Homo sapiens: one gene and its partners. The protein of the gene in region 5 purifies or fractionates together with the protein of the main gene of each other region. This does not show direct contact. Each region holds a gene or a part of one and is shown on either strand. Other genes may lie near its edges. The genes, in order: TGFBRAP1, CCS, ACBD3, BEND3 and ZFHX3.

What was found.
Region 1: the proteins of ZFHX3 (region 5) and TGFBRAP1 purify together in Homo sapiens (affinity purification with mass spectrometry; one large-scale study listed by BioGRID and IntAct). This does not show direct contact.
Region 2: the proteins of ZFHX3 (region 5) and CCS purify together in Homo sapiens (affinity purification with mass spectrometry; one large-scale study listed by BioGRID and IntAct). This does not show direct contact.
Region 3: the proteins of ZFHX3 (region 5) and ACBD3 purify together in Homo sapiens (affinity purification with mass spectrometry; one large-scale study listed by BioGRID and IntAct). This does not show direct contact.
Region 4: the proteins of ZFHX3 (region 5) and BEND3 purify together in Homo sapiens (affinity purification with mass spectrometry; one large-scale study listed by BioGRID and IntAct). This does not show direct contact.

What each region holds. Positions count from the first base shown.
Region 1 is NC_000002.12:105,305,716-105,309,235, forward strand, and holds part of TGFBRAP1 (transforming growth factor-beta receptor-associated protein 1), read right to left. Parts: intron 2,604-3,520; 5' UTR 2,587-2,603; coding exon 1,899-2,586; intron 1-1,898. UniProt on the Homo sapiens protein: Plays a role in the TGF-beta/activin signaling pathway. It associates with inactive heteromeric TGF-beta and activin receptor complexes, mainly through the type II receptor, and is released upon activation of signaling.
Region 2 is NC_000011.10:66,596,170-66,599,689, reverse strand, and holds part of CCS (copper chaperone for superoxide dismutase), read right to left. Parts: intron 575-3,520; coding exon 437-574; intron 232-436; coding exon 54-231; intron 1-53. UniProt on the Homo sapiens protein: Delivers copper to copper zinc superoxide dismutase (SOD1).
Region 3 is NC_000001.11:226,159,223-226,162,742, reverse strand, and holds part of ACBD3 (Golgi resident protein GCP60), read left to right. Parts: intron 1-1,053; coding exon 1,054-1,212; intron 1,213-3,384; coding exon 3,385-3,520. UniProt on the Homo sapiens protein: Involved in the maintenance of Golgi structure by interacting with giantin, affecting protein transport between the endoplasmic reticulum and Golgi. Involved in hormone-induced steroid biosynthesis in testicular Leydig cells.
Region 4 is NC_000006.12:107,064,669-107,067,605, forward strand, and holds the end of BEND3 (BEN domain-containing protein 3), read right to left. Parts: 3' UTR 514-2,937; downstream 1-513. UniProt on the Homo sapiens protein: Transcriptional repressor which associates with the NoRC (nucleolar remodeling complex) complex and plays a key role in repressing rDNA transcription.
Region 5 is NC_000016.10:72,796,629-72,800,148, reverse strand, and holds part of ZFHX3 (zinc finger homeobox protein 3), read left to right. Parts: intron 1-19; coding exon 20-122; intron 123-1,434; coding exon 1,435-3,520.

The DNA of each region.
Region 1 (3,520 bases), on a different chromosome or scaffold from region 5:
GTGCAGTGGCACGATCTCAGCTCACTGTAACCTCCGCCCAAGTGATTCTCCTGCCTCAGCCTCCTGAGTAGCTGGGATTACAGGTGCCCACCACCACACCAGGCTAATTTTTGTATTTTTAGTAGAGATAGGGTTTCACCTTTTGGCCAGGCTGGTCTCGAACTACTGACCTCAGGTGATCTGCCTGCTTCGGCATCCCAAAGTGCTGGGATTACAGGCGTGAGCCACCTAGCCCAGCCTCAACAACTTTTTAGAATGAGGAGCAAAAACAATCAAATGACAACCCACTCTTGTGGGAAAATCTTACCAGGAACCCTTACGGAGTTTTCTGGTTTTTTGTTTTTTGTTTTTTGTTTTTTTTTTTTTGAGACAGTTTCCCTCTTGCTGCCCAGGCTGGAGTGCAATGGCGTGATCTCAGCTCACCGCAACTGCTGCCTCCTGGGTTCAAGCAATTCTCCTGCCTCAGCTTCCTGAGTAGCTGGGATTACAGGCATGCACCACCATGCCCGGCTAATTTTGTATTTTTAGTAGAGACAGGGTTTCTCCATGTTGGTCAGGATGGTCTCGAACTCCCCACCACAGGTGATCCACCTGCTTTGGCCTCCCAAAGTGCTGGGATTATAGGCGTGAGCCACTGCGCCCAGCCCAGAGTTATTTTTGTAGTTATTTACTTAAAAGAATTTTCCCACTGTTAAGAGTGGGTAGATAGCTAGCTAGACATGAATGGGAGGGAAGAGCCCCTGAGAAAAGGGAGGTCTGGAAAATCCCACATCCCAGAGACCATCAAAAAGATGCATGCTGGCCAGGCATGGTGGCTGATGCTTGTAATCCCAGCACTTTGGGAGGCCGAGGTGGGTGGATCCCTTGAGGTCAGGAGTTCAAGACCAACCTGGCCAACATGGTGAAACCCCATCTCTACCAAAAATACAAAAATTAGCCAGGCATGGTGGTGCATGCCTGAAATCTCAGCTATTTGGAAGGTTGAGGCAGGGAGAATCGCTTGAACCTGGGAGGTAGAGGTTGCAGTGAGCCGATACTGTGCCACTGCACTCCAGCCTGGGCAATAAAGCGAGACTCTGTCTCAAAACAAAACAAACAAACAAAACATGCATGCTAGATATGAGCAGAGAGGAGGGAAAGAGGGTAAAGGAGAAATTCCAAAGAGACATTCAGGTGCAGTAAGTATGGACCTAACCGCTGTACAACCTTCCTGGGGTGGAGGTAATGAGCAATGCAGCCATTAGGTGGGATTCACATCCAACACCGGCTGTACATGTGCACCAACTACTAGTAAGAGAGGGTCCCACAAGCTTAGAGTAGAAATTAGGTGGGAGGAAAAGGTGGGGACTTAAGGCAGAAGCGGGAAAACTAGACAAAGGAAAAAGGCAGAAACTTTAAGACAGAGGTGGGAACTTCAAGAAAAACTCCAGCATCATAAAAACCCGATGCAGAACTCTCAGGGCTGCTGGCTCACTCTCTCAGCATCCCACTCTGCCTCATCTTTCAGAACGTACTGTCTCTCTCCATATAAATTCTCTGTTCTCTATTTCCCTTCAGAAAGCTCTCTGCTATCTCTGAATTGTCTCTTGGCCAAAATCTTTCTCCCAAGATGACTAAGGGCTGAGAATATCCCCACTTCCCGGTAACACCACCAGAGCTGTCTTCAAGCTCCACTTTAATGTGAAAGAAACTGGTTTTATGACTCCAACCCCACGTTCACAGAACAATCGAACTGGATTTCATCAAGCACTGGTCAAGCACTGCTACCTCTGTCTTGCCACACACGCCCAATGTCACTGAGGATTTATTCTGCACAGCGCCAATCTCACTCTCCAGTTTCAACACGCAGTCACCGAGGCCACCCAAAAAGATCAGGCGCACAAATGCATCCTCCTCACCCAGCCCTCCGGGGCCCGCCAGCAGGAACTCCTGTCTCCCTATCCTCTTGACGATCGGCGGCCTCTCCTCACTGCAGTAGGGAAACAGGTCCTGGGAGACGCCTGTGCTGTAATTGTGGATGATGTACTGAGTGGTCAGAGCCAGACACAGGAAGTGGCCGTCCACAGCCACAGCGAGGGGCTGCTCGGCAGTCGACACCTCCTTGACGATCTGCACCCGGTCCTCGTACACCAGAAACATCTGGATGGTTCTGCGTTTGACAGAGATGATGCAAACTTCTACACAGAAGGGGTCCCCACTCACAGGGTTCTCGTTCAGTGCAAACGTGGCTGCCCCCTTGATGCGGGCCCCCGAAGGCACTGGCTCGAGGTTCAGCATGTTGACCAGGCTGATGGAGTTGTCACACAGCACCAGCAGCCTGTTGAGTGCTGAGGCCGCACGCAGCTCGTTCACGGGCTTCTTGAAGCCCAAGTGTCTCTGCAGCTGTTTGGTGGCAGTGAACGTGGCTGGCCCAGCAGGCACTGGCCTCTCCTCCAACAGGAAGTGGTAGACGAAGCAGTCGTTGGTGCCCACGTAGAGGTCCCTGCCGCAGCACTCCACGCACTCTATGTTGACGCGCTCCTTGTCGCCCATCAGCAGCTCCCGCTCCACAGCAGAGACAAGCGTAAAGGCTTTGATGCTCATCATGTCTACTGGCTGATCTGCTGGAAGAGAAAGAGGAAAACTAATTTTAGAGGAACAAGGAAGAAGCAGAAACAGAGGCTGCAATAATGATACGTGGATTCCCTAGTTGTCATTTTCATTAAAGAAAGTCATTCCACGCTATCAAAAAATGGAAAGAAACCATTTCCCCACAGACCTCCCCCATCAGACAGCAGAAGACCCAAGAAGAAAACCACAGACACATACACACACACACACCCATATACACATATGTATGTGCTTGTGATCACGTGCCATCCTGCTCAGTCCCCACACAGAGTCACCTGGAGCCTCCTCACATTGCTCCTGGGAGACACGCTTGAAGGCAGAAGACAAATGCATGCATTCACCCACGGGCAACATAACAAAAGGATTTCTGTGAGGCAGGAGGATGGCTTGACCCCAGGAGCTGGAGGCCAGCCTGGGCAATATAATGAGACCCCATTTAAAAAAAAAAACAAAAAGGATTTCTGAAAAAGGCAGAAATGATCCTCACTGATCTTCCCTGAGTTTCTACAGCTACTTGAATATGCACTTTAGTCAATGAACACAACCACAGTCACAGGATCCTGCCAGGAACACCGAGGCAGACGCCAGGCCTTGGATTCCTTTGTGTTCTTCCCAATAAGGCAGGCGCATCAGCCTCAGCTCCGGAGTAAATGTATTCATGTGGAGAGTAAAGGTGTGCCTCGGATCTCGAAAGGCTTTCAGATGGTGAGTGGAGCTATTTAGTGGATGTGTGGACCGACCGGTCCCTGGCTCCCATTGGAAGTGAGACTTTCCCACACACTAGCCCGTCGCCTCCTACTTCATCTTCTGCAGAGAACTGTGGCTTCACACTCCACAAAGTCACAGGGAGAAGATCAGGCAAGGTGGCCTTTCTGACTTCTCAGGCAGCCAGAAGCAAACTCAAAGGCAC
Region 2 (3,520 bases), on a different chromosome or scaffold from region 5:
AGTGTGAAAATGTGTAGCTGAGAATGCTACTGGGGAGACTTCAGACAACTCACCTGTTGCAGTTGTTTGTAAGGTCCCCGTACTGATGGACGTGGAGTCCATGCAGCCCAGGCTCCAGGCCGTCAATAGTTCCCTCGATGAGGCAGCGCTCAGGGGTCAGCTGTAGGAAGCGCACCACCCCCTGCACGGTGCCAGGCCCCCCCAGGATGGCCACTGCTGCCCCCAGATTCTCTGCAAGGTATTAGACACTTGGGCTGGCTTGCCACCTCACCCAGCACACCTCTTCAGCAGCTCGGGAAGGGCAGGGAGTCTCACATAATTTTCACACCTTCCTCAAAGCCACTCCAACCCAGAGCCTGAGAATCCTATGATTAGATTTGTACCAGCTCTGAGCCACCTCCCTCCGAGAGGGGCCAAGGCCACAGTGGTCACTCACGCAACTGGCCGCTGCCCATGCCCTTGAGTACCGCCTGCCGCCCCGTGCCTTCCAGGAGAGCCTGCACCTCCTGGCTGGGTAGAGTGGTGTGTACCAAGACCATCTGGTCCTCCAAGTGCACCTCCACATCCTGGACACCTGGCAAGAAAGAGAGGGAAGAGGGCAACAGAGGCTGGCACCCAGTGCTGGCAGCAGGGAACAGAAAAACAGACAGCAATTCTCCATCCCCATTTCCACCAAACTTCCCATGGTCAGAGGCAAGCTACTTCGTAACTGTGTAACCCTGAGTAAGCCTCTTCACTTCTGAGTCTGTCTCTTTTCATATAAATGGGGATAATGCCACCTTGCCCCCAGGATTTCTGTGAGTTCTAATACACGCCAGGCATTATTTATAACTTTGGAAACATACATCATTCTTTTTAAAGCAGTGTTTTGTTTTTTTTTTAAGTGGGCTATCCATAGTGGCATTATTCACAATAGCCAAAAGATAAAAATAACCCAAATGCCCATCAACTAATGAACAGATAAAATGTGGTATCCATACAATGAAATACTATTCAGGAACGAAGTGCTGATACATGCTACAACATGGACGGACCTTGAAACATTATGCTACAAGAAAGCCAGTCACAAAGCCACATATATAATGCCATGTATATTAGATATCTAGAATAGGCAAATCCACAAACAGAAAATATTCTTCCTGTAGGAGATAGCTTAAAAAATATTTTTTTTTTTTTGAAACAGAGTCTCTCTCTGTTGCTCAGGCTGGAGTGCAGTGGCACGATCTCAGCTCACTGAAACCTCCATCTCCCGGGTTCAAGCGATTCTCCTGCCTTAGCCTCCCGAGTAGCAGGGACTACAGGCACACACCACCACCATGCCCAGCTAATTTTTTTGTATTTTTTTCTTTTAGTAGACATGGGGTTTCACCATGTTGGCCAGGCTGCTCTCGAACTCCTGACCTCAGGTCATCTGCCTGCCTCAGTCTCCCAAAGTACTGAGATTACAGGCATGAGCCATCACGCCTGGCTGTGGCCTAGGATTTCTTTATGAAGTGATAAAAATGTAAAACTGACAGTGGAGAGATGGTTGTACAACTCTGAAAATACTACAAACAGATGAACTGTATCCTTTAAATGGGTGAATTTTTTTTCTTTTTTTTTTTTTGAGACAGAGTCTCGCTGTGTCACCCAGGCTGGAGTGTAATGGCACAATCTCGGCTCACTGCAACCTCAGCCTCCCAAACTGTTGGGACTACAGGCGTGAGCCACTGCGCCTGGCCTAAATGGGTGATTTTTATAGTACATGAATTATATCTTTTTTTATTTTCAAGATGGAGTCTCGCTTTGTCACCTAGGCTGGAGAGCAGTGGCATAATCTTGGCTCACTGCAACCTCTGCCTCCTGGGTTCAAGCAAGCCTCCCAAAGTGCTGGAATTACAGGCGTGAGCCACTGTGCCTAGCTGCCCAGCCTATGAATTATATCTTTTTTTTTTTTTTGAGACAGAGTCTCACTCTGTCGCCCAGGCTGGAGTGCAGTGGCGCCATCTGGGCTCACTGCAAGCTTCACCTCCTGGGTTCACGCCATTCTCCTGCCTCAGCCTCCCGAGTAGCAGGGACTACAGGCGCCCGCCACCAAGCCCGGCTAATTTTTTGTATTTTTAGTAAAGACGGGGTTTCACCGTGTTAGCCAGGATGGTCTCAATCTCCTGACCTCGTGATCTGCCCGCCTTGGCCTCCCAAAGTGCTGGGAATACAGGCATGAGCCACCACACCTGGCCTTTTTTTCTTTTTGAAATGGAGTCTCGCTCTGTCACCCAGGCTGGAGTGCAGTGGCACAATCTCGGCTCACTGCAAGCTCCACCTCCTGGGTTCTAGCCATTCTCCTGCCTCAGCCTCCCGAGTAGCTGGGACAACAGGTGCCCGCCATCACGCCCAGCTGATTTTTTGTGTTTTTAGTAGAGACAGGGTTTCACCGTGTTAGCCAGAATGGTCTCGATCTCCTCACCTCATGATCTGCCTGCCTCAGCCTCCCAAAGTGCTGGAATTACAGGTGTGAGCCACTGCGCCCAGCCGAATTATATCTTAATAAAGCTATTACACACATAAAAGGCAGGGACTATTGCCATCATTAGTAGAGCTAACACTTACTGGGCATGGACGGTGAGCGAATCCTGTGTTTTACCTGTCTTAACATATTTGGTACTCCTACTAAGCCTCTAAGTTAGGTACAATGATCCCCATTTTACAGATGAGAAAACTGAGGCACAGAAAGATGAAGAAACTTGCTCAAAGTCGCACTGTAGTAAGTTGTGCAACTGGACCTCTGACCATGCAGCCTAGCTCCAGAGCCCCAGCACTTAACCCAGATATTGTACTCACCCTAGGAAGCAGCCCTTAGGCTCCAAGCTGGGTTAGGACCACACCCCTTGTGGTCCTGTAGCAGCTCACACTCCCCCTCCTGTAATTCACATTGCACTGACTACAATCCTGTTTCACTCCTAGGCCGCCAGCTCTGTGAGGGCAGGAGCTCTGTGAGGTCCACAAGGGTCAAGTTCAAAAGTCAGTTGTCGGCCGGGCGCGGTGGCTCATGCCTGTAATCCCAGCACTTTGGGAGGCCAAGGTGGGTGGATCACAAGGTCAGGAGATCGAGACCATCCTGGCTAACACGGTGAAACCCCATCTCTACTAAAAATACTAAAAAGTTAGCCGGGCATGGTGGCGGGCGCCTGTAGTCCCAGCTACTCAGGAGGCTGAAGCAGGAGAATGGCATGAACCCGGGAGGCGGAGCTTGCAGTGAGCCGAGATTGCGCCACTGCACTCCAGCCTGGGCAACAGAGCGAGATTCCGTCTCAAAAAAAAAAAAAAAAAGTCAGTTGTCAGATGGCCAGGCGTGGTGGCGCACACCCATAATCCCAGCACTTTGGGAGGTTGAGGCAGGTGGATCACATGAGGCCAGGAGTTCGATACTAGCCTTGCCAACATGGCAAAACTCCATCTTTAGTAAAAGTATGAAAATTAGCCAGGCATGGTGGTGCACACCTGTAATCCCAGCTACTCAGGAGGCTGAGGTGGGAGAATC
Region 3 (3,520 bases), on a different chromosome or scaffold from region 5:
CACTTATAGGAGTTAGAGGGGAGAAAGGTGAGGTAGCCCAGACAATTCTCGTGGTAGGTTTATGAAATAGTGTCTTATCTGATACTCCTTAGAAATCTTCCCTTTCATCCTGTCTGCAGGCTCCCTGAACACCATACCACTCTCAGACCCGGAAGATGTCCATTCCTAGCACAATAGGATCTGTTCTTTTTGGAAGGGTCTTGTGGGGTGGGTGAAAGCTGGGCAAGGGCTGCCCTGAGAGGTTAACCGTTCTTTTTTAAATTAAAAGCTTTACAAAAAATTTTAATTTCAGAAATAATACACAAATATATGCAATATAAAATTTTCATTTATGGCAGTATATGAAACACAAACTGAAAAAAATCTTTTTTCCCACATTTCTTTTAATTCCACTCTCCTCTGCATAGATAATAACTGATAAATTTAGGGTATGTCCTTCCAGATCTTTTCCTTTGTATTCACCTTTTTTTTTTTCATTAAGCAAGTGTATTACATGTCTTTACATATTAGGCAATGTATTTCTATCCTTTGGCTCTGCGATATTTCAGGGTGGATTTTTTACTTCTGTACACGTTTGTCGAGTGCTTGTTCTTTCCAGCACTGTGCTAAGCCCTGAGGATGTCGTGGTGTGAGATAGGCAGTCTCTTCCCCTATGGAGCATCTAGTTTAATGGGTAATGCAGATCTATTGCTGAATGTATCACACAAATTTAATTATAATGACAGCAGGTATTATGAAGGAAAAGCTTTTAGTGCTGTGAGCATATATTAGAGGGGATCCTTCAGGGTATAGGAATATCATAATGACTTAAGTAGTTTCTTATGATGGACACATTTCTGTTGCTGTGCAACAATAATTATTCTTGATGTGATTTGTATATTGTGCGATTGATTCCCTATAAGTTTCTGCTAGTAAAGTGTATGTATTTTAAATTTTGATGTATATATCCACATTGTTCTCTAAAAAGGTCATGTCAGTTTTCCCTGGGAGCTAAAGTTTTATTTTTAAACAGGATTCAACGTATAGGGTTCATTCTCTATCTTTGCCTTGTAGGAAGGAGGAAGAGGAGCGAAGGCGGCGTGAAGAGGAAGAAAGAGAACGTCTGCAAAAGGAGGAAGAGAAACGTAGGAGAGAAGAAGAGGAAAGGCTTCGACGGGAGGAAGAGGAAAGGAGACGGATAGAAGAAGAAAGGCTTCGGTTGGAGCAGCAAAAGTAAGTTTATTATGTGGCTTATGTTTTAAAATGAGAAATGGAAAAAAAATAGAATAAAAATAAGAAATGAGCGGGCCAGGTGTGGTGGTTCACGCCTGTAATCCCAGCACTTTGGGAGGCGGAGGCGGGCAGATCACCTGAGGTTGGGAGATCACCTGAGGTTGGGAGATGGAGACTATCCTGGCTAACACAGTGAAACCCTGTTTCTATTAAAAATACAAAAAATTAGCTGGGCGCAGTGGCATATGCCTGTAATCCCACCTACTCAGGAGGCTGAGGCAGGAGAATCTCTTGAACCCAGGAGGTGGAGGTTGCAGTGAGCCGAGATCGCGCCATTGCACTCCAGCCTGGGTAATGAGTGAAACTCCGTCTCAAAAAAAAAAAGGAATGTATTAGAAGGTTTGGGGGTTCACTTGCAGAACCCAGAGATTGGAAGCAGGAGCTGAGGTTGCTTGGTTGCGCTCTCTGTTTCTTGTCTCTGCTTCTCTCAGCTTATGTCTCTGCTTCATCCTTGCTCTCTGCAAATTGTCAACTGTCTGCTTTGGCATATGCAAGGCTGTCCGAGGATTTATTTGGTCTATGTTTCCATGCATCTGACAGAGACTGGCTGGAATCTGTGAGACCCAGTTGCAGTTTCCCAGGACAGAGAATCTTGTTGGTCCAGTCTATGTCAGATATCCATTTATAGTCCTTAGTACAAGATTTGGAGGCTTCAACTATTGCTTACTCAGTAAGGGCTTTGAGACTCAGAGACTGACAGGTTCTTCAAGAGGGAGCTGTGGGTACAAGGAGGCAGTGATTAACACCCATAAAACACTGGGAAGTAAGTCTGAGTTTGTAGGGGTGGCATGGCTTGTAGGTTAAACCAGAGAACATGAGAGTCCATTGATTTCTTCTCATTATTTCTGGGTAGTTCCTCAGAAAAAGGTTTAGTGCTAGCCTCAAACTAATCCAGGCCCTCATTCAACTTTGGAGAAAGACTATGAATGCAGCTCTTTTTTGGGGGAGGTTGTCCTAGGTGGATCGAATGTTGTGCTGTATGTAGGAGTTTGTGAGGCTTTGCTTTGTTATCTATTAATAGATGGCTTTGAGGTCTCTGTTAAGTTGGTCACATAAGTAAGTTAAGAAGCATGTGGTTGCTGGCTGTGGTGGCTCATGCCTGTAATCCCAGCACTTTGGGAGGCCGAGGCGGGCGGATCACTTGATTGAGGTCAGGGGTTTGAAACGAGCCTGGCCAACATGGTGAAACCGTCTTTACTAAAAATATAAAGATTAGCCAGGCGTGGTAGCAGGTGCCTGTAATCCCAGCTACTTGGGAGGCTGAGGCAGGAGAATCGCTTGAACCTAGGAAGTGGAGGTTGCAGTGAGCTGAGATCACGCCACTGCACTCCAGCATGGGTGACAGAGTGAAACTCCGTCTCAAAAAAAAAAAAAAGAAGAAGCATGTGGTTTATCTATAAAAGAATATGAGTATCTCTAAACTAAGCATGCCAAGATATTTTCAGTATTTCCTCTATTAAGACAGGCTTTAAATTAAATGCTGTGGACCCTTAATTTTTCACTGGCTTTATTTATACTTACCAGGGCCACCTGTAACATCTTCCAGCTATTCTTCTGCCTCTTACTGTTTTTTATGTATTTAGGTACAGAAGCCATAGCCAACAGTTAAATACCTCATCTATGTCAGAGATGACAATCCATCATCTTAAAGCATCGTGGTAAATTAGTGTAGCTCTAGAGCCAAACTGCCTGGATTTGCATCAGGCTGTAGCATCTGCTAGCAGTATAGTCTTGGGCAAGTTACTGAACCCTCTGTCAGAGGGTTGTTGTGAGGACTAAATGGGTTAGTATGTGTGAGTACTTTCAACACTGCATGGCACATAGTAAGGGCACAATAAATGTTAATAATTATGATGGTGGTCATGATGATGATGATCATATGCTTATCTTCCATCCCGAATTTTCCTGGAAAATCCTAAGTAAAAAATTAGAGGCCAGGCTTATTTTCTTAAATCTTTCTTCTGGACCCAGAACACATACTAATTGGTGTACATTACTAGCTTAGTTGTTTTTAAGAGTTACAGACTGTAAAAGTAAGTAATAAGGACATTTTATTTTGTCATGAACAATCTCCTGTAGCCAGACTAGTATATATATTTTTAATGTTTTTAGGCAGCAGATAATGGCAGCTTTAAACTCCCAGACTGCCGTGCAGTTCCAGCAGTATGCAGCCCAACAGTATCCAGGGAACTACGAACAGCAGCAAATTCTCATCCGCCAGTTGCAGGAGCAACACTATCAGCAGTAC
Region 4 (2,937 bases), on a different chromosome or scaffold from region 5:
GGGCCTGTAGTCCCAGCTACTTAGGAGTCTGTGGCAGGAAGATCACTTGAGCCCAGGAAGTCGAGGCTGCAGTGAGCCATGATTATACCACTGCACTCTAGCAGGGTTGGGGCGGCGGGAAACTAAAACCCATTTGATCCAAAGTGAAAAAAAAAAAGGCGGTTAAATGAAAATGAAACTCTGCTGGCTTTGCAGGACTGGCCTGGCACCTGACCAGGAAAGGTTAAAAAAGGTCAAACAAGCCTCCCACTACATGGCCAGGAAGTGGTTTGTGGAGAAATGGTTTGGAGGATTTATCTGGCAATTTCTCATTCATTCAGCTGTGGCCAAACTGAAATCCTATGAGCTGTACCCCTGACACGTAGAGTATGGAAGCCCCAGAAGCTGAAATCCCCCGGAATATTCACGTTCTTCCCTGGGAGGTGGGTGAGGAGGCCACGCACAAAGACAAATAGACCAAGACATATTCTGAGAGACCAGTGCTCTAAGAAAATAACATGTTACGAGACCATGTTTTTCTATTTTTATAACATTTTATATAACTCATAAAACAGTGTTTGTATAAAAATTCACACAAAGTTGCTAGAGAGCATACAATTTCCAAAAATGTCCTGGGTTTTTGTTACATTCAGTTTCCTAAGGATGCACTCCAATCTATGGTAAAATGCAGACATGATGCGAGATTTCATTATCTTTGGTAAAACTATTCTCATTATTTTGTCTCCTCACAGTATTAAGTCTGATATCCACTTTGTGCAGGGTCTGCTATTACTAGGATGTCAGAAAAACATTAAGGCTGGATCTACGAGAGGCAAGTATTTCCCAACAGCAGTAATAGCCCCTTGGCCCTCACCCCCACTTCATGTATCTATACAGTCGATCTACACAGCCAGGCGGGGTGCAAGCTCACGACCTCCACTCGGGAGTCTCGAGATCCCCTCTTGACTGGGAAAGAAGCAAACATTTGTGGGGAACGTTGGAAACGGAGGCCATCTCTAAATGAACCCAGTGGTCATGCTGTGGTGTGGTCAGACCAGCAACTTTTACCAATTAAATAGCCAATCTATTCACCACTAAGTAGATCCCATTGGTTGGTTGGTTGATGATTGCTGCTGATGTGGTTCCCCACTCCCCACAAACATAAAAGGAAAGGAAGGTTTGGAGCCAACACCGAAAGGGGAGGGGCACGCTAGCGCAAATGACACCAGACACGACTTTATTCCCTGTCAAACATTTGTTGTCCTGTAGACACAGCCAAGGTGAACTGAAGGGGGATGCGAACACTCAGTACATTCGTGACTATCTTCATACATTCTTTAAAAACTTACAGAGAAATCAATGAAGACTACCACCTACTGTGACTTACTAGTTCATTCAACATCAAAACGTGTCTGTGCTAATCTTTTAGTCCTTGGGATACAAGGCCAAAAAAAAAAAAAAAAAAATCCAAAAAACAAACAACTAAAAACCAAAGAATTTAGATGTGGGGGAAGGAAAGCGACTGCCAACAGGTTTCATGGAACACATTAAATTTTGAAAAAATAAGTATTTTGTACTTCTATTGCTTCATGTAAAAAATTTAAAATAAAAAAATGCCCACTGGAGCCACCTGTATGGATGGAGAAGTGAGGACACCATACAGACAGGGCAAGGACCTGCAGGCGTTTCCTGACGACAGTCCAGAGATGGTGAGAGTTCCCACGTGTGTCCACTTCTCTTCACAGAAAGGGACTGTAAGATTCTGGGGGAAGATGCCCTACACATGTAAGGTATTAAGAAAATCACTGAAATACGGTTTCCAAAAATTGAACATGCTCTGGGTTACAAAGAGACATATTTAATTCCTAGAACCTGTTGATTTCTCTAACAGGGGTAGATGGGAGTTTCAAAAAAATTATTAATAAATGATTGTGCTTCTAAAGTTGCAGGGTCAACATTCCACCCTCTAGAAAGCAGGGCAATTCATGGCTTGGAGTCCTCGTTTACATCCTAGAAACCAGAACAAATTCCATGGGACCTCCCGCCTCCAGCCCCCAACAACCAGCGGTGGGAAGGGGGAGGTGGTGGGAGAGGGCCACAGCTGTCTTTGGGTAGGGTGCGTGTGTGTGCATGCTGTGTGCATGTGCTGGAGAGACTAAGGCATAGAGAAGGGCCCAAGCGAGGGGGGAAAGTGAGTCTCCTGGCTGCTCCAGTCCCTCCTTTCCAGGCACAAAGAAGTTGAACTTGTTATTCGTGTAGGCCCCCTTCATCTCACTTCAGCTTTTAGTAAGCAGTGCGTGTGTGCATGAGTAGCTGTGTAAGACAGAGAGTCATTCAGTCCCTGTGCCTTTCTAAATCTGTTTGCAGTTTCAACAGAAATAATCTGTAAATGACACTTAGGAGCAAATTTACTAGTTAGATCAGCAACTTAACATTGCTTTTAAAATCCTGTATTTTAAAAAATGCTCCTGGGTACAGGCAAAATTATGTCATACAGCCACTGGAACTGAAGTTCTTATCAGCTGAATGAAGAAAATCCAGATTGTTTCTGTTATCTCTGCATTTTAAAGTAGCAAAATATTAAGCCATCCCACAGGGGTTCTATGACTACCCTGTGTGATTCAATAAATTTTCCAGGACTCTGGTATGACACACTGTTTGCATTCGACTGTTTCCTTTCCCTCTTAAGCATTTGGCCCCCAGAGTTAGGTAGGTAAAAGTATCATTTTAAAGGACTTTACCTGTCAGGGGATTTCCCAGTTGGTGCTCCTGGAGAGCATGCAGCTGGCCTGCAGGAGCCTGACATTCCCAGTCGGGAGGGAACGAAGACATGTGCCCCCCAAGGCAGGGGGTGGCCAGGTATAGGACAGCAGGACCTTCTAGAGAGTCCAAGAGGAAAGTTCTGAGTGGACCCTGGGAAGGGACATGTGTACCCCATCTAAAATGGCCTGTGTCCTT
Region 5 (3,520 bases):
CCTTGCTCTTGCTCCTCAGGTGACCACCCCTGAGATGGTGATGCCAAGCAGCATGTTCCTCCCAGCAGCTGTTCCAGATCGAGATGGGAATTCCAATTTGGAAGAGGCAGGAAAGCAGCCTGGTCAGTATCATTATTCTTGACCCCAAGAAATTGAAACAAGATGGAATGCCAAAATGTTCATGGAGAAAGGTTTTCAGGAATTCTTTACAATACTCTTAAGGTGAATGTAACTGATCAGGAGATGAGGGGCACTGTCATCAGCTACTTTATACTCTGCTTCTTGGCATGTATTTGTATATTACTCACATGGTTTAAAGTGAGAGAAAATTAGTATGAGAACCAGTGGAATTCTGGCACAGACACACACATCTTCTTAAACTATACAATTAGGGAGTGAATAACCAGAGACTCAGTCAGTAGGCCCTACCATTCTAAGCCATTAAACACTGTATTTCTGAGGACTTAATTAGTAGGGACTTGTGGGTTGATTTTTAGGTACACTGGATTAGTTGTCTTTCGTTCTGAGTTTTTTGGGATTGGCTTAGGATGAAGCACAGAGATGCTGATGGAAAGAACATTGTTGTAGACAGTAGTTGGTGCCACATAGTGTTTCCTGGCTAGATGAATGGTTAGACCTCTGTGAGGCTGTCCTACATCGTTCACCTCTAAGGTGGGAAGAGTTCTAAGTTGGGAAGAGTTTGGCCACACTACTGTCCTGCCTTCTCTCTTTCTTGTGAGTTTTCCATATTAGACAATGGACAAATGACCTGTTAAAGGGTCTCGGTATTTATGAGTGTGATGATCTCATTGTAGGGAAAAAAATGTATTTTAAATAATTGAACACTTGAATGTTAATTGCTTATTGAATAGAGATGGCAATCAGAAGTCACATTATAACAAGAAATTAAATGCCTAAAAATATGTATCCCCAAATTTCTTATATTACGATGTTCAGCAGTTCTTGTAAATTCCTCACAACTTAGGACAGCATTAATTCACATATTCTACACTTCAGATCTACTGTGCTAAATGCTTATTACATAAAAGATGAACATAAAAGGGAAATCCAGTCTAAGATCAGTAACCTTCAAACCAGCTCTTGAGAAATTGAGGATTCTGAGTCAAGCAATTAAATGCTATTTAAAAGACTGTTAGATCTGTGATATGACATGGGTCTATTATGCATTGAAACTTTTTGTATTTCCTTTTATCCATCTCTGTTCATGTGCACCCTGTTTATAATATGTGCTCTATTGGAGGAACAAAAGAAAGCAGGAGGCGCTCCGCAGAGATTCTGTCATTCAGGTTGGGCACTTCCCTCATCATCAGATTCTGTGTTCATGAGGCCTGACTAGGTAGACCGCTCTGGGTGCCATCCTTGAAACAAAGCCTTCTTTATCTTTGGGTTTGATTTTTTTTTTTTTTTTAACAGAAACCTCAGAGGATCTGGGAAAGAACATCTTGCCATCCGCAAGCACAGAGCAAAGCGGAGATTTGAAACCATCCCCTGCTGACCCAGGCTCTGTGAGAGAAGACTCAGGCTTCATCTGCTGGAAGAAGGGGTGCAACCAGGTTTTCAAAACTTCTGCTGCCCTTCAGACGCATTTTAATGAAGTGCATGCCAAGAGGCCTCAGCTGCCGGTGTCAGATCGCCATGTGTACAAGTACCGCTGTAATCAGTGTAGCCTGGCCTTCAAGACCATTGAAAAGTTGCAGCTCCATTCTCAGTACCATGTGATCAGAGCTGCCACCATGTGCTGTCTTTGTCAGCGCAGTTTCCGAACTTTCCAGGCTCTGAAGAAGCACCTTGAGACAAGCCACCTGGAGCTGAGTGAGGCTGACATCCAACAGCTTTATGGTGGCCTGCTGGCCAATGGGGACCTCCTGGCAATGGGAGACCCCACTCTGGCAGAGGACCATACCATAATTGTTGAGGAAGACAAGGAGGAAGAGAGTGACTTGGAAGATAAACAGAGCCCAACGGGCAGTGACTCTGGGTCAGTACAAGAAGACTCGGGCTCAGAGCCAAAGAGAGCTCTGCCTTTCAGAAAAGGTCCCAATTTTACTATGGAAAAGTTCCTAGACCCTTCTCGCCCTTACAAGTGTACCGTCTGCAAGGAATCTTTCACTCAAAAGAATATCCTGCTAGTACACTACAATTCTGTCTCCCACCTGCATAAGTTAAAGAGAGCCCTTCAAGAATCAGCAACCGGTCAGCCAGAACCCACCAGCAGCCCAGACAACAAACCTTTTAAGTGTAACACTTGTAATGTGGCCTACAGCCAGAGTTCCACTCTGGAGATCCATATGAGGTCTGTGTTACATCAAACCAAGGCCCGGGCAGCCAAGCTGGAGGCTGCAAGTGGCAGCAGCAATGGGACTGGGAACAGCAGCAGTATTTCCTTGAGCTCCTCCACGCCAAGTCCTGTGAGCACCAGTGGCAGTAACACCTTTACCACCTCCAATCCAAGCAGTGCTGGCATTGCTCCAAGCTCTAACTTACTAAGCCAAGTGCCCACTGAGAGTGTAGGGATGCCACCCCTGGGGAATCCTATTGGTGCCAACATTGCTTCCCCTTCAGAGCCCAAAGAGGCCAATCGGAAGAAACTGGCAGATATGATTGCATCCAGGCAGCAGCAACAACAGCAGCAGCAACAGCAACAACAACAACAACAACAACAACAACAAGCACAAACGCTGGCCCAGGCCCAGGCTCAAGTTCAAGCTCACCTGCAGCAGGAGCTGCAGCAACAGGCTGCCCTGATCCAGTCTCAGCTGTTTAACCCCACCCTCCTTCCTCACTTCCCCATGACAACTGAGACCCTGCTGCAACTACAGCAGCAGCAGCACCTCCTCTTCCCTTTCTACATCCCCAGTGCTGAGTTCCAGCTTAACCCCGAGGTGAGCTTGCCAGTGACCAGTGGGGCACTGACACTGACTGGGACAGGCCCAGGCCTGCTGGAAGATCTGAAGGCTCAGGTTCAGGTCCCACAGCAGAGCCATCAGCAGATCTTGCCGCAGCAGCAGCAGAACCAACTCTCTATAGCCCAGAGTCACTCTGCCCTCCTTCAGCCAAGCCAGCACCCCGAAAAGAAGAACAAATTGGTCATCAAAGAAAAGGAAAAAGAAAGCCAGAGAGAGAGGGACAGCGCCGAGGGGGGAGAGGGCAACACCGGTCCGAAGGAAACACTGCCAGATGCCTTGAAGGCCAAAGAGAAGAAAGAGTTGGCACCAGGGGGTGGTTCTGAGCCTTCCATGCTCCCTCCACGCATTGCTTCAGATGCCAGAGGGAACGCCACCAAGGCCCTGCTGGAGAACTTTGGCTTTGAGTTGGTCATCCAGTATAATGAGAACAAGCAGAAGGTGCAGAAAAAGAATGGGAAGACTGACCAGGGAGAGAACCTGGAAAAGCTCGAGTGTGACTCCTGCGGCAAGTTGTTTTCCAACATCTTGATTTTAAAGAGTCATCAAGAGCACGTTCATCAGAATTACTTTCCTTTCAAACAGCTCGAGAGGTT